3 separate regions of the Homo sapiens genome follow, and regions 2 and 3 are each linked to region 1. The links come from fine-mapping of genetic effects on gene expression. A gene starts in region 1. Each other region holds a variant in brackets. All regions are shown on one strand. Distances are from middle to middle.

Region 1 (4,000 bases):
GATTGGACCCCAAGAGAGGAACCTCCAACAGAGAGAAAATCACCAGACTTGACCGACCCAGGCCTCAAAGAACGTTGCTCCACTCATTCCTGGGCTCCTCTCACTAACAGCTAGCCCCTTAAACCCCAACTTTTTTTTTCTTTTTTTCTGAGACAGTGTCTCGCTCTGACAGCCGGGTTGAAGGGCAGCGGCATGATCATAGCTCACTGCATCCTCAACCTCCTGGGTTCAAGTGATCCTCCCAACTCAGCCTCCCAAGTAGCTGGGCCTACAGACGTACACCACCACACCTGGCTAATTTTTGTATTCTTTGTACAGATGGGGTCTTGTCATGTTGCCCAGGCTGGTCTTGAACTCCTGGGCTAAAGCAATCCTCCCACTTCGGTCTCCCAAAGTGCTGGGATTACAGGCTTGAGCCACTTTACCTAGCCCCAAACTTTTTAAAATTGGCTAATCGGGACTAAATATCATGAAAGAGTGCGACGTGGTCGGTTAAACAAGGACAACCCCGTTGTCCGTGTCTGAAGACCACTGCACATTTCCCAAAAGCAAATTTCGAAGTGGAGAATTTAGAAACCAACTTCCCAGATGAAGGATCCCACAGAGAAGTGAGTCCGTGGAAATGATAGAATCGCCCGGTTCCTTTCTCTAAACTCCGACTTCCTTTCCCCAAGGACATCCCAGGAGGGTTCAAACGCGCCCTCTCTAAGGCACTCTGCCAGGTCTCCTGATTTCCAGTTTCCGGGAGGTGAGGCCGGCTAGGGTGCCCCGAGGGCCTGCTCTAGAGAAAACCGCCCTCAGGTGAGGACGGCTTCCATTTCCGGGTCTGAAGATAAGGAACAGCTTATCTTCGGTCTCCGCCCTCCTGCCTGCAACCCTCACCCACTGACCACGCCGGCCAGTCCGCCGCGCCAGGGCTGCCCTTGGCCTGGTCCCCGGGTCTCGGTGGACCTTCGACCCGGGCCTCCCAGCTCTGGCCTCCTGCATCCACCCCGCCCCGACCTCAAGCTGCTTCCGGAATAGAATGAAATCCAGCTCGTTAAGCTTCGCGGGGAGGTGTGTCCACCCGCCCCGCGCCGACTCCGGCCGCACTGTCGCACTTCACTCGCACCAGCCAGTGGCCAAAGTGCTTGGGCACCTATTGCGCCAGGCCAGGAGCCGGAAGTCTTACCTCGCCCTCACCCCAACTCTTTGCCCCACGTTCCCGATAAGAACATGGAGGCTCGGAGAGATTAATTTGCCCACGTGCAAGCGGCAGCTAAGGGGCGGACGCGGAACTTGAACCGTGTCCCTCCTAAACCTGCCCCTTGTCCGCCGCAACGCGCCCTCGACGCGCACAAAACCCTCACTTTGCTACTGAGGAAAGTTATTCAATGGCCAGAGACACCCTGCGGCTTTTGAAAAGAGGTTTCAGGCTGACAAATATCCATATATACATATATATTTATATTTAAGCCTAAAACGACTCTTTGATCCCTCCCCTAAGACCTCCTTCCCGTCCGCCTAGGCCTCGGTATCCCCCACCAGGTATGAGAAGGAGGAGTCTTCATTCTTCCCAGGCGGGGAGACCACGCCTTCCCTGCCTCCTCCCTCCGCGGGGGGTCGCGTTGGAGGTCACCCCCGCCCCCTAGGCGCTGGGTTGGGAGTGACGCGGGGTGGGCTGGAGAGGTTTCCTGCCGTCTGGGAAGCGTAAACGGACCGCCCACCTGTCGGGCCTCGGCCGCCCGCACCTGCTTGTGAGAAGCCTGCGGCTGGGGCACCGCCCCCGGTCCCCGCCCGGGTCCGCGCATTGGGAGCACACTGGCCCTTTAAGAGCGCGGCGGCCGCGGCGCGCGGGGAGGAGGGCTGGGAGCGCCCGGAGCCGCGCTGAACTCGCCGGGGACGTCGGGCGCCCGCTCCTTGGCTGGCTCGCTTGCTCTCTCGCTCGCTCTCTCGGGTCGGCTCCCTGCGCCTCCTCCCGGGACTGCTTGGGGACCCGGGCCCGGTCGGGCGCGGCGGCGAGCAGAATCCCCGTGCAGGAGGCGCGCGCTCCGGGCAGCGCCCGGCCCCGGGCATGGACAGAGGGAGCTGGGCGCGCAGGGAGCGCCGCGGGACCGGGCGGCCGGAGCGCTGAGCCAGACAAAGGCTCCGGAGTTGCGCTTGCTCTCGGGAGCCGGGCCCCAGGCGCTGGGCGCCGAGGCTGCGGAACCTCGCCGGGGGCAGCTCCGGTCGGCCCCCTTTCCCGCCGGCTGGTTCCGAGCTCCCGGACCTGCCCTGCCCGCTTCTCCTCGGGCTTGGGAATTTGCCGAGGCGACCTAGGCGGCTCCGGCGGGGACCGGGAGCCCGAGGTCCGCGGCGCGCCTGCCGGGCCAGGAGCCAGGGAGCGTCGCAAGTTTCCAAGGCGCGTGCGAGGATCCGGCGTGCAGTGTTCCGAGCTGGGCTGGGCGCCGAGAGCATGGGCAGCGACCCGAGCGCGCCCGGACGGCCGGGCTGGACGGGCAGCCTCCTCGGCGACCGGGAGGAGGCGGCGCGGCCGCGACTGCTGCCGCTGCTCCTGGTGCTTCTGGGCTGCCTGGGCCTTGGCGTAGCGGCCGAAGACGCGGAGGTCCATGCCGAGGTAAGACCCCCGCCCTGCCCTTTGGCTGCGGGCTGGGGGCTTGGAGGGAGAGGCGCCACGTCCGCAGGCTGGGACTTGGAGGTGGAGGGAGCGGAGACGCGCCCCCTGTTCTGGGCCGTGGCGGGGAAGCAAGCGGACTTGGCAGTCTGCCCCTCCCCAGCTCGCCCTCTGCAGCGCACCTCTTCGCAAACCCTTGAGGGCGCAGGGCCTCGCTCTCCTCCCCGCTACTCCTACAGCCCTGTTCTGGGCACTGAGCCCCCACCCCGACCCCCTTACATTCAGCCTGTGTCCCGGGAGCCGCTTCCGCCGCCCCCAGCCCTTGCCTCCCCTCCTTCCTTCCCTCCAGGGCAGCCGATTCCTCGAGAGCCCGGCTGGCGCGCAGTGGCGCTCTTTGCGAGTGGGGAGGGGGCTGCTCTCGGGGACAGCCACAGGCGGAGCAAGAGCTGGGCGGCTGGGCAACTGCGCTCCTGCCCAGGTGGCCTCCCGTCTGGGTGATACCGAGCCGCGCACGGCGGGCCAGGATGGAGGCGGGGGGATGGGTGCAAACGGCTGAGGCAGCGGACTCGGGTTGCGGGGGCGCTTTGGCGACTTTCTGCGCTTTTGCGAGGAAGCCTAGGCACGCCCGGGCGGGGTCCTAAGGACGGACCCTGCCTCCCACAGCGCTTCCTCCCAACAGCGCCCCTACGTCGAAGCCCTGGATTCGAGAGGGTGGACCCCGCGCCTCTCTTCGCTAGGAGCCCGCTTGGCGTCCCTCCCGGGGCCCCGCTCTGGATGGGTCCCGCGGGTGACCAGGCGCGACATCCCGGCGTAGAGCCGAGTCCAGCCAGCGCCCCAGCTCCATGGTGTCTCCCGAGCGAGGACACCGAAGGCGCCAGCTTTCTTGCCCCAGAGCAAGAGCAGGGTCCACTCTTCCCCGACTTCTAAGACCTGCGCCCTGCCCCAGATAGGCGGGGAGAGGACTTGGGCGGGGAGTAGGGAGAAAGAACCACCCCGGAGCCGCTTCTGAACGGTGCTCAGGCCTTGGTGCCCTTGGGCTGCCCGGGCTGCGGGCCTGAGCGCCGTTTCTATTTGCAGCTCAGCTGGTGCTCCCTCCCTGGCCCACGGCGGCTTTCCCACCTCTCCGGGCTGCCTGGGAGATTTTTCCGATGGAAGCTTGCCCTTCCCCGCCCTACTTTAATAAAAGCATAGAGGAAGGGCAGGGAATTCCTCCTGGGCTCGAGTTACACCTCCCAGCCATTTCCCCACCTGCTCTGCCCTCCCTCCCTGGCCTGGCCAGGGAGAGCTGAAGGAGGAGCCAGGCCCTGGTGGGAGGCAGGATAGGAGCCCCGCCCCGACCCAGTCTGGCCACCCTCCCCCACCCCATTCACACAGGCAGGAGGAGCTTTAGGGGGCTCCTGTTGGTGA
Region 2 (4,258 bases), 39 kb after region 1:
TTTGGCCCACCTGGAGTGAATTGTGTAACTTGACAGGAATCTAAGTAATACACCTGACATTGGTGTGTTGTCAGTTTCAATACATGCTTCCAGATTGCCCGTCCAGGTCACAATACAGCTTGCCTGACCAGGTCATCTGGTGGCCCTGTGGTGAGATGGGGACATGGGGCTTCCTCCATGGGGCTGGGACTCTGGCTGCTAAGAAGCAAACTCCAGCTTTAAGCAGGTGTCCAGGCCAATCAACAGTCCTCACACTGGGGCACCAGGCACCTTCCCCTGTCCTGCTCAGAGGCAGGATAGAAACCTGACAAGGGTGTTTTCACCAACCTGAGAGTTTCGGCCCCTCTCTGGGGACTGTTTGCGTTTCGGGTCACAGTGTTGGCTGCCCCCACCCCCTTCTTTCCTCTGCCAAATTGACATTCCCCAGGCTGTCAGGCCTCCAGGAAGCGGGCAGTTCCTGCCCTGTGGTGCCTACAGGGAATCTCCTCTTTCTATTCCAAGCACTTCCACATCCTCGTGACATTTCATCCCCTTCACACAGTCCAGCAAATGAGAGGTGCTGCCCTCATCCCACAGACAGAGGCTGAGGCCCACCAAGGGGCGACAGCTTGCCCAAGGTCACAGAGCAAATTAGGGGCTGAAGAAACACAAAGAAAACTGACCGCCAGCCCAGTAGCCACTCCCTGTTATTCTCCTCCCTCCCCTAACTCAGCCACCGGACAGGGATCAACCTCTCTCCAGTTCCTTCATGCATTCAGCAAATACTGTGTTGGCATTTACTGAGTACCAGCTGCAGAGGCTGCAAACTATGGCCCTCTGACCAAAGTGGGCCCACTGTCTGCTTTTATTTTTTTATTTTTATTTTTAATTAATTTATTTTATCAATTTTTTTTTTGAGACGGATTCTCACTCTGTCACCCAGGCTGGAGTGCAGTGGCGTGATCTCGGCTCACTGCAACCTCTGCCTCCCGGGTCAAGCGATTCTCCTGTCTCAGCCTCCCGAATAGCTGGGAATACGGGCACGCGCCACCACGCCCAGCTAATTTTTGTATTTTTAGTAAAGACGGGGTTTCACCATGTTGGCCAGGCTGGTCTCGATCTCTTGACCTGGTGATCCGCCCACCTCGGCCTCCCAAAGTGCTGGGATTACAGGCGTGAGTCACCACAACCGGTCGTCTGCTTTTATAAAGTTTTATTGAAGCACAATCACTCCCACCCATTTGTGTATTGTCTATAGCAGCTTTCTGCTACAAGGGCAGAGCTGAGTTGCAGCAGAGACCATCTGGCTCCCAAGCCTGAAAATTTATTATCTGTCTCTTTGCAGAAAAATTTGCCCATGAACCACATTATGATTTTCTAGGCCATTTTGTCTTCACGAGCCCTTTTTGTGAAAAAAAAAAAATTACAAATATATGTAATATATGTTATATATATAATTGTATAATTTTTAAATTATAAATATCTACAGCCAGGCGCGGTGGCTCACGCCTGTAATCCCAGCACTTTGGGAGGCCGAGGCGGGCAGATCACGAGGTCAGGAGATCGAGACCATCCTGGCTAACATGGTGAAACCCCGTGTCTACTAAAAATACAAAAAAAAAATTTAGCCGGGTGTGGTGGTGAGCACCTTGTAGTCCCAGCTACCCGAAAGGCTGAGG[C/G]AGGAGAATCACTTGAACCTGGGAGATGGAGGTTGCAGTGAGCCAAGATCATGCCACTGCACTCTAGCCTGGGTGACAGAGCAAGACTCTGTCTCAAATTAAAAAAAAAAAAAAAAAAAAAAAAAAAAAAATATATATATATATATATATATATACATATTTACAATTTGTATAATTTTTGTATGCATATACAAACAAAATTATATGTTATAACTGTGTTGATATCAAAACAAATACAACCCAGGCCAGGCACAGTGGCTCACATCTGTAATCCCAGCACTTTGGGAAGCCAAGGCAGGTGGATCATTTGAGGTCAGGAGTTCGAGACCAGCTTGGCCAACATGGTGAAACTTTGTCTCTACTAAAAATACAAAAATTCTCTGGACATGGTGGTGCGTTCCTGTAATCCCAGCTACCAGGGGGCTGAACCAGGATAATCGCTTGAAACTGGGAGGTGAAGGTTGTAGTGAGCCAAGATCGTGCCACTGCACTCCAGCCTGGGTGACAGAACAAGACACTCTGTCTCAAAAAAAAAAAAAAAAAAAAAAAATTACAGGTTGGATTGGATTCTTTCTTGTTTTGTTTTGTTTTTTTTGAGACAGAGTCTCATTCTATCACCAAGCTGGAGTGCAGTGGCGCAATCTTGGTTCACTCACTGCAACCTCCGCCTTCTGGGTTCAAGCGATTCTCCTGCCTCAGCCTCCTGAGTAACTGGGACTACAGGCGTGCGCCACCATGCCCAGCTAATTTTTTTATTTTTAGTAGAGACGGGGTTTCACCATGTTGGCCAGGATGGTCTTGATTGCTTGACCTCGTAATCCGCCTGCCTCGGCCTCCCAAAGTGCTGGGATTACAGGCATGTGCCACTGTGCCCGGCTGGATTTTTTTTTTTTAGCTGACTAAAAAAACTTACAGGCTGGGCACAGTGGTGGCTCACGCCTATAATCCCCGCACTTTGGGAGGCCGAGGTGGACAGATCACTTGGGGTCAGGGACTCGAGACCAGCTTGGCCAACATGGTGAAACCCTGTCTCTACTAAAAATACAAAAATTAGCCAGGCATGGTAATGTGTGCCTATAATTCCAGCTACTTGGCAGGAGAATCGCTTGAGCCAGGGAGGCGGAGTTTCCAGTGAACCGAGATCATACCATTGCACTCCAGCCTGGGTGATAAAGCGAGACTCAGTCTCCAAAAAAAAAAAAAAAATTACAACATGTTTGTGGGTTCCTAGAAATATTGTAGGCCCTAGGCACTGGGCCTGCTGGGCCTCATGGAGAAGTGAGCCCTGAGTTTGTCACACAGGGGTCCTCCCATTGCTGAGAATAGAGCCCCCAAAGGAGACACCCACTGTGGTTACCCCCTCTCCTTAGTCCTTATCCCAATAGTAGGGGGCAGGGGAAAATTTTGACAGCTTTGAGGGGAACCATTAAGGGCTTAAACAAAATGATTGCATACAATTCTTGGGATGAAAATTTTAATTCTTTTTCAAATGCCTACATTTCATAATTAAAAAAAAAAAAAACTTTTGAGACAGGGTCTCCCTGTGTAACCCAGGCTAGGGTGCAGCAGCATGATCACAGCTCACTGCGGTCTTGAAGTCCTGGGCTCAGTCGATCCTCCCACCTCAGCCTCCCAGGAAGCTGGGACTACAGGCACATGCCACCATGCCTGGCTAATTTTTAAAAATTTTTTTGTAGAGATGAGGGCTCACTTTCTTGCCCAGGCTGGTCTCAAACTCCTGGGCTCAAGCGATCCTCCTGCCTTGACCTCCCAAAGTGCTGAGATTAAGGCGTAAGCCACCATGTCCAGTCTTACATTTTAAATTAGTTTTTTTTTGGAATAAATAATAAATGTATGTGGGTAAAAACATGTTTTGAAAGCCCCAAATTATCTGCAAAGCTGGGTAACTCTCCCTCCCACCACAGCAACCCCTCCCCTTCCCATCACTGACTACAATTCCTTCCAAATAGATTGTGTAATACAAAAAGAGATGCATACTTCTTAAGTCTATAGTCTTATGCAGAAATTCACCTTGATTTTGTTAAATTGCTCTTTAGTATTCCATTCAATCAAATAACTCAATTAGGATATTTGGGCATTTCCAATTGTTTTCTATTACAACAATGGAACAACAAATACTTCTGTACAGACCAGCTATTCCTGAATATTAGGCATGCTTTTTTTTCCGCTTCCAAAATAATTACTCAGAAAAGATAGAGTCCCTGTATGTACGAGTTCTCATAAAAGGTCTTGCATTACCTGATGTTTTCTGATCATTTTAAACAAGGAAGTACTATTTGGGGAAGACACAATAGCCTGAAATGACCTCAGAGAATTTTAATTTGGGATGTTTATGGCAGTCATCCAAAAGAATTAGTTGGGGTGAAAAAGAGGCAAATTTAATGCAGATTTAGTAATTTTTCCTGGGGATATGACTTCACAATTCCAAGTGTTAAATAACACTGTAAACAAGTCCTTTCAAGATTACTTTGAAAGTGGTACTTTAGGCCAGGCATAGTGTCTCACGCCTGTCAATCCCAGCACTTTGGGAGGCCAAGCCGGGTGGATCACTTCAGGCCAGGAGTTCGAGACCAGCTTGA
Region 3 (4,258 bases), 30 kb before region 1:
GAGGCTGTTTTTCCCTCTCTCTCCCCTACCTCTATCCCCACCTTTGAGCAACAGACAGAGCCTGAGTTGCAGCTGGGCCACGGGGGCAGGGACGGGGTGCAGGAGGAAAGGTGTGCTGGAGGGGCTCAGGTGGGAGGCAGCTGGGCTGACCATGCAGAAGGGTCACTGTGTGACAGGGTGGGTGGTTGTGGGGTGACAGCAAGTCCTCCCCCTCCTCTGGGGCAGGGCCGGGCTGGCTGCATCTGCTGCTGCTGCAGGCAGGCCCTTGGTTTTCCACTGGGGCTGCGCAAGCTCTCATGCTCACCAGGCCCAGTGCCTGGCTTCCAGGCTTCCATGAGCTGCTGCTCTCTCACAGGTCAGCTCCCACTTCGGGGGCTGTGGTTAAAGCCAATGGAAGTGAGGAGGTCTCAGGCTCATTCCTGAAAATCCCAGGTGTCCTGGAGTTGGTACTGTCAGCATCTTCAAACATCCCCACCAGGGACTTTCTATAGGGCTCTATTTAATTCTCACAACAACCAAGCAAGGCAAGGTGAACCTCCCCATTTTACAGATGAGGCAACTGAGTCCCAAAGAGGTTCCCAAGGCCACACAGCCAGAACGTTCAAAGCTCAGGATTCAAACCCAGCCCTATGCCCCAGTCTCCAAGCCGCCACTCAGGCCTGTGCCCCTCTCTGCCTCTCCATGTCCATCGTTCCCCTGTGGAAGAAGGAGCAGAACAAGCAGTGCAGTGGTCTGTGACGGTCAATGTCTTTACTTCTAAAGCATACATTGGACTCACTATATATTAACATCAAAAGTGGCTACCTAAAATGGAGTCATTCTTTTTAAAAATCCAAATCCTCACATTTTTATATAAGATCCAAAATGACATGAAATTAAACTCTACAATGTTATGAATAGTATAACAAACTGCTTTCAGAAAGCAAAATGAAAGGAAAAGAATTAGCAGTTGGGACGGTTGTAGGCCTGGGTTCCATGTCTTTTGAGGCATTGTGACAGAGAGCCAGCACCGAGGGGAAGGACCAGCCCCTCCCTGTGGCCACAGGAAGGAACTCAGTCAGACAGAGGAGGTGGGCGTGGCTGGTCAGCCTTCTTACGGTGACAGAGAAGCATGGTGGCATCTCCCTGCCCCTCAGGGCCCTTGGTGTGCCCACTGATTAGTCTTCTTTCAAGACCAGGGAGGGGTGGGGCTGGAAGAGGGCAGGGGATAGAGCAGGGTTCAAAATGATTATTTTAATAATAAAGGTCCTTCTGGGCTTCCTAAGGAGGGCCGTAGCCACCCAGCGATGTTGGTCAACTCCATCCACCAGGTCCCCCACAGGCTTCCTTAACCCACTTGCTCTTTCTGCTCCCTATGACTGGGATACCCTCTGCTTCATGAGCCTCATGGGCAGCCAGAGACCTAGGGGGACTCTAGGAGGACCCAAAGGACACTCTGGCCTTTGAAGTAGCTGGATGTTGTCCAGAACATCTTGGCTGTACCAGACCCCTGGGGTCCAGGCCAGCAGCCACATTGATGTAGGGAGGGTACTGGGGGGGTCCCCACCCTGGCCTAGTCTTGGCTCTGAAGCAGGACTGGGTTGAGCTGACTGGGGCTGTGCCCCAAGCCCCTGACGCTTTGGTTCACACAATTCAGGGGAGGACACTTGTTTGCATCTGCTGGGGAGATCCTAGGCCTGGTCCTGCTTCCTCCCAGCCTCAGGTGGGCTGACAATCCCTGCCTTTCACACCAGCAGTTCTGTCTGCTGAGAGCACGGCACATTCCCCACCACACCTAGGAACTGCACTACAAAGGTGGGAGGGGCGCTTCCAAAACCGGAGGATTTGCCCTTAGCAGAGACAGGCTGCTTTTCCTCCTGTCCCCAAGGATGGCACTGTCCCTTGGCTGAGGGTGTCACACGAACTTCTCAGCTTCCCCCTTCCCCCTGGGCCCACTGGTCTCCAGGCAGACCCAGCCCCAAGACCCACCCTGCACATCTCCCCTGCCAGAAACCTGGGGACACGTCGCCCCTGGCTAGAGCAGACGGAGAGGGCTGTGACTCACCCTCTGCCCTCCCAGTCCCCAGGCCTACGTCTTAAAGCTGGCCTTCTCCCCCACACGGCAA[C/G]TGATGCCTTACACCTAGCCCACCTCTGGGGCCCCAGCCCCACCATGAGCCTCCGCTTTCCTAACCTATGTGGCTGCTAGCTTGAAAGATATGGGAAGGTTGGGCTGGCATCACACCCTCCTTAGGGCAGGGAGAAGCCACTTGACTTCCAGCCTGGCTCCAGTGCCCCGGAAATAAGGGGGGTGCTGATGGCTCTCAAGAAAGTGAATCTTGTCATGGGAAAGAGGTTTGTGGAATCAGGATGGGCCACAGCAATCTGGCCGCCCGCACTGCCCGCTGGTGCCAGGAGTACGAGCGGCACACCCTCTCCCTGCCTCATACCCCTGCGTCCTCACTCCCGAGGTCTCAGAACACCGAGCTGGGTGGGGCCCTTGGTGCAAGGCAGCTGTGAGGAGCTAGGCTGCGCGAGGCCTGCTGGGCCCACGGCGCCGACTCAGGTCAGGCTGGTAGGGGCCACAGCCGCAGAGTCAGGGCAGGCAGGCGGCTACCTGGTAGGCGCCCTCCGCTGCCGCGGCGGCGGCACTGTGCTGCGCGCTGTGCTCCTGCAACAAGGCCACGTCTAGGAAGCGCTCCCCGCACCATACACACTTGAACTGCTGCTCGCGGGCGTGCACGCCCTGGTGCTTGTTGAGATGCTCCCGCTGCTTGAAGGCCTTGTCGCAGTTGGGGCACTTGTAGGGCTTCTCGCCTGTGTGTACCCGCCGGTGCCGCTGCAGGTCTGACGCGTACTTGAAGCGTTTCTCGCAGTCTGGGCACTTGAGTGGCTTCTCGCGGGCCGGATCGCAGCGGTGCTGCACGAACTCGGAAGAGGAGAAGAAGCGGCGTTCGCAAAGCGTGCAGCGCAGGGGCTTCTCTGCCGCCGCACAGTGGGCCAGCTGGTGCTTCTGCAGGGCCGACGCGCGCTTGTAGGCCTTGTTGCACACAGGGCACTTGAAGGGCCGCTCGGCCGCGCCGGGCAGGCACTTGTGCCGCAGCAGCTCGGCAGATTGGTCAAAGCCTTTCTGGCACACGGGGCACTTGAAGAGAGTCTCGAGGGTGTGCACGTGCTGGTGGTAGAGCAGGTGGCTGGGCTGCCCAAAGCCCTTCTCACATAGGCCGCATTTGAAGGGCTCCTCGGTCTTGTGTGTGCGCCGGTGGCGCATCAGTGCGTACTGCTGCTTGAAGCCCATGGGGCACAGGTCGCACTTGAAGGGCCGCTCGGCGCTGTGTGTGCGCTCATGCTGCCGCAGGTCCGAGGGCCGCTTGAAGGCCTTCTGGCACTCGCCGCAGCGGAAGGGCCGCTCCCCACTTGGCGTGCACGGGTGCTGCAGCAGCTCCGACGACTCCTTGAAATGCAACTCGCACACGTTGCAGCGGAACAGGTGGTGCTCGCCCGAGTGCGCGTACATGTGGCGCACCAGGTGAGAGCGGTGCTTGAAGGTCTTCTCGCAGACTGCGCACTTGTAGGGCCGCTCGGAGCTGTGCGTGCGCTTGTGGTGCACCAGGTGCGACGACTGGCTGAAGCTTTTGTCACACAGCGTGCACTTGTAGGGCTTCTCACCGGTGTGGATCCGCTCATGCCGAGAGAGCTCCGACAGGTGCTTGAAGGGCTTTTGGCAGATGGGGCAGCTGTAGGGCTTGTCGGCCTGTTCAGCAGGGGTGACAGTGGAAGGCGCGGGTGCTGCGGGAAGCGACGGGGCGGCTGTGGTGGCTGGCTCCGCTGCCTCAGCTGGCTTGTAGGTCTTTTCACAGATGGAACACTTCACCAGGCCACTGTGGGAGCTGTGGTGCTGTGCCAGTGAGGTGAGTAGTGAGAAGCCCATCTTGCAGACCCCACAGACGAAGGGCTTCTGCTCAGCCTGCACGCACTGGTGCTCCAGCAGGTCAGTGGCCTGGTGGAAGATCTTGAGACACTGTGTGCACTGGAATGAGCGGTCATGGCCCGCCAGACACTGGTGCTCATGCGGACTGGACAGGTGCGCCAGGTCGTGACCACACACGCCACATTTGGGGCCTGGCTCTCCTGCTGCCTGCAGGGGTGCGTGTTGTGGGGGCTGCAGGCCGGGGTCTGGCTGCAGGAGGATGCCATAGACGGCACAGCCCAGGGGGTTCTCCGCCGTGCCCGGAGGCAGCGTGTGCTCTGCCAGGGCTGGCGGTGGCTCTGCATGGTGCTG

Alleles and levels. Alleles are on the strand shown, and positions count from the first base shown. SD is a standard deviation of normalised expression in the study named. Not every link is listed here.
For the expression in skin of the gene that starts at base 1,838 in region 1, allele C in region 2 goes with a higher level than allele G (small effect, 0.24 SD a copy in TwinsUK).

The links. PIP is the estimated chance that this variant, and not a neighbour inherited with it, causes the effect. A credible set is the group of variants that fine-mapping cannot tell apart.
Region 2: its variant is the best candidate, but not a certain one, in a credible set for the expression of MMP15 in skin (TwinsUK, PIP 0.87).
Region 3: its variant is the best candidate, but not a certain one, in a credible set for the expression of MMP15 in sigmoid colon (GTEx, PIP 0.62).

Annotation. Positions count from the first base shown.
Region 1 is chr16:58,023,917-58,027,916 of GRCh38, forward strand. It overlaps MMP15 (matrix metallopeptidase 15), which reads left to right and starts at 1,838. Exons shown (of 10, transcript NM_002428.4): 1 at 1,838-2,596. The coding sequence starts at 2,435. RefSeq lists enhancers at 447-1,034, 1,035-1,620, 1,853-2,402, 2,953-3,502 and a silencer at 1,847-1,986.
Region 2 is chr16:58,063,229-58,067,486 of GRCh38, forward strand. No RefSeq gene overlaps it. Among named protein-coding and RNA genes, the nearest start is that of MMP15, 40 kb to the left of the region's middle. The variant C/G (reference allele first, on the strand shown) is at 1,659.
Region 3 is chr16:57,993,945-57,998,202 of GRCh38, forward strand. It overlaps ZNF319 (zinc finger protein 319), which reads right to left. Exons shown (of 2, transcript NM_020807.3): 2 at 732-4,258. The coding sequence ends at 2,573. Among named protein-coding and RNA genes, the nearest start is that of ZNF319, 4.6 kb to the right of the region's middle. The variant C/G (reference allele first, on the strand shown) is at 2,106.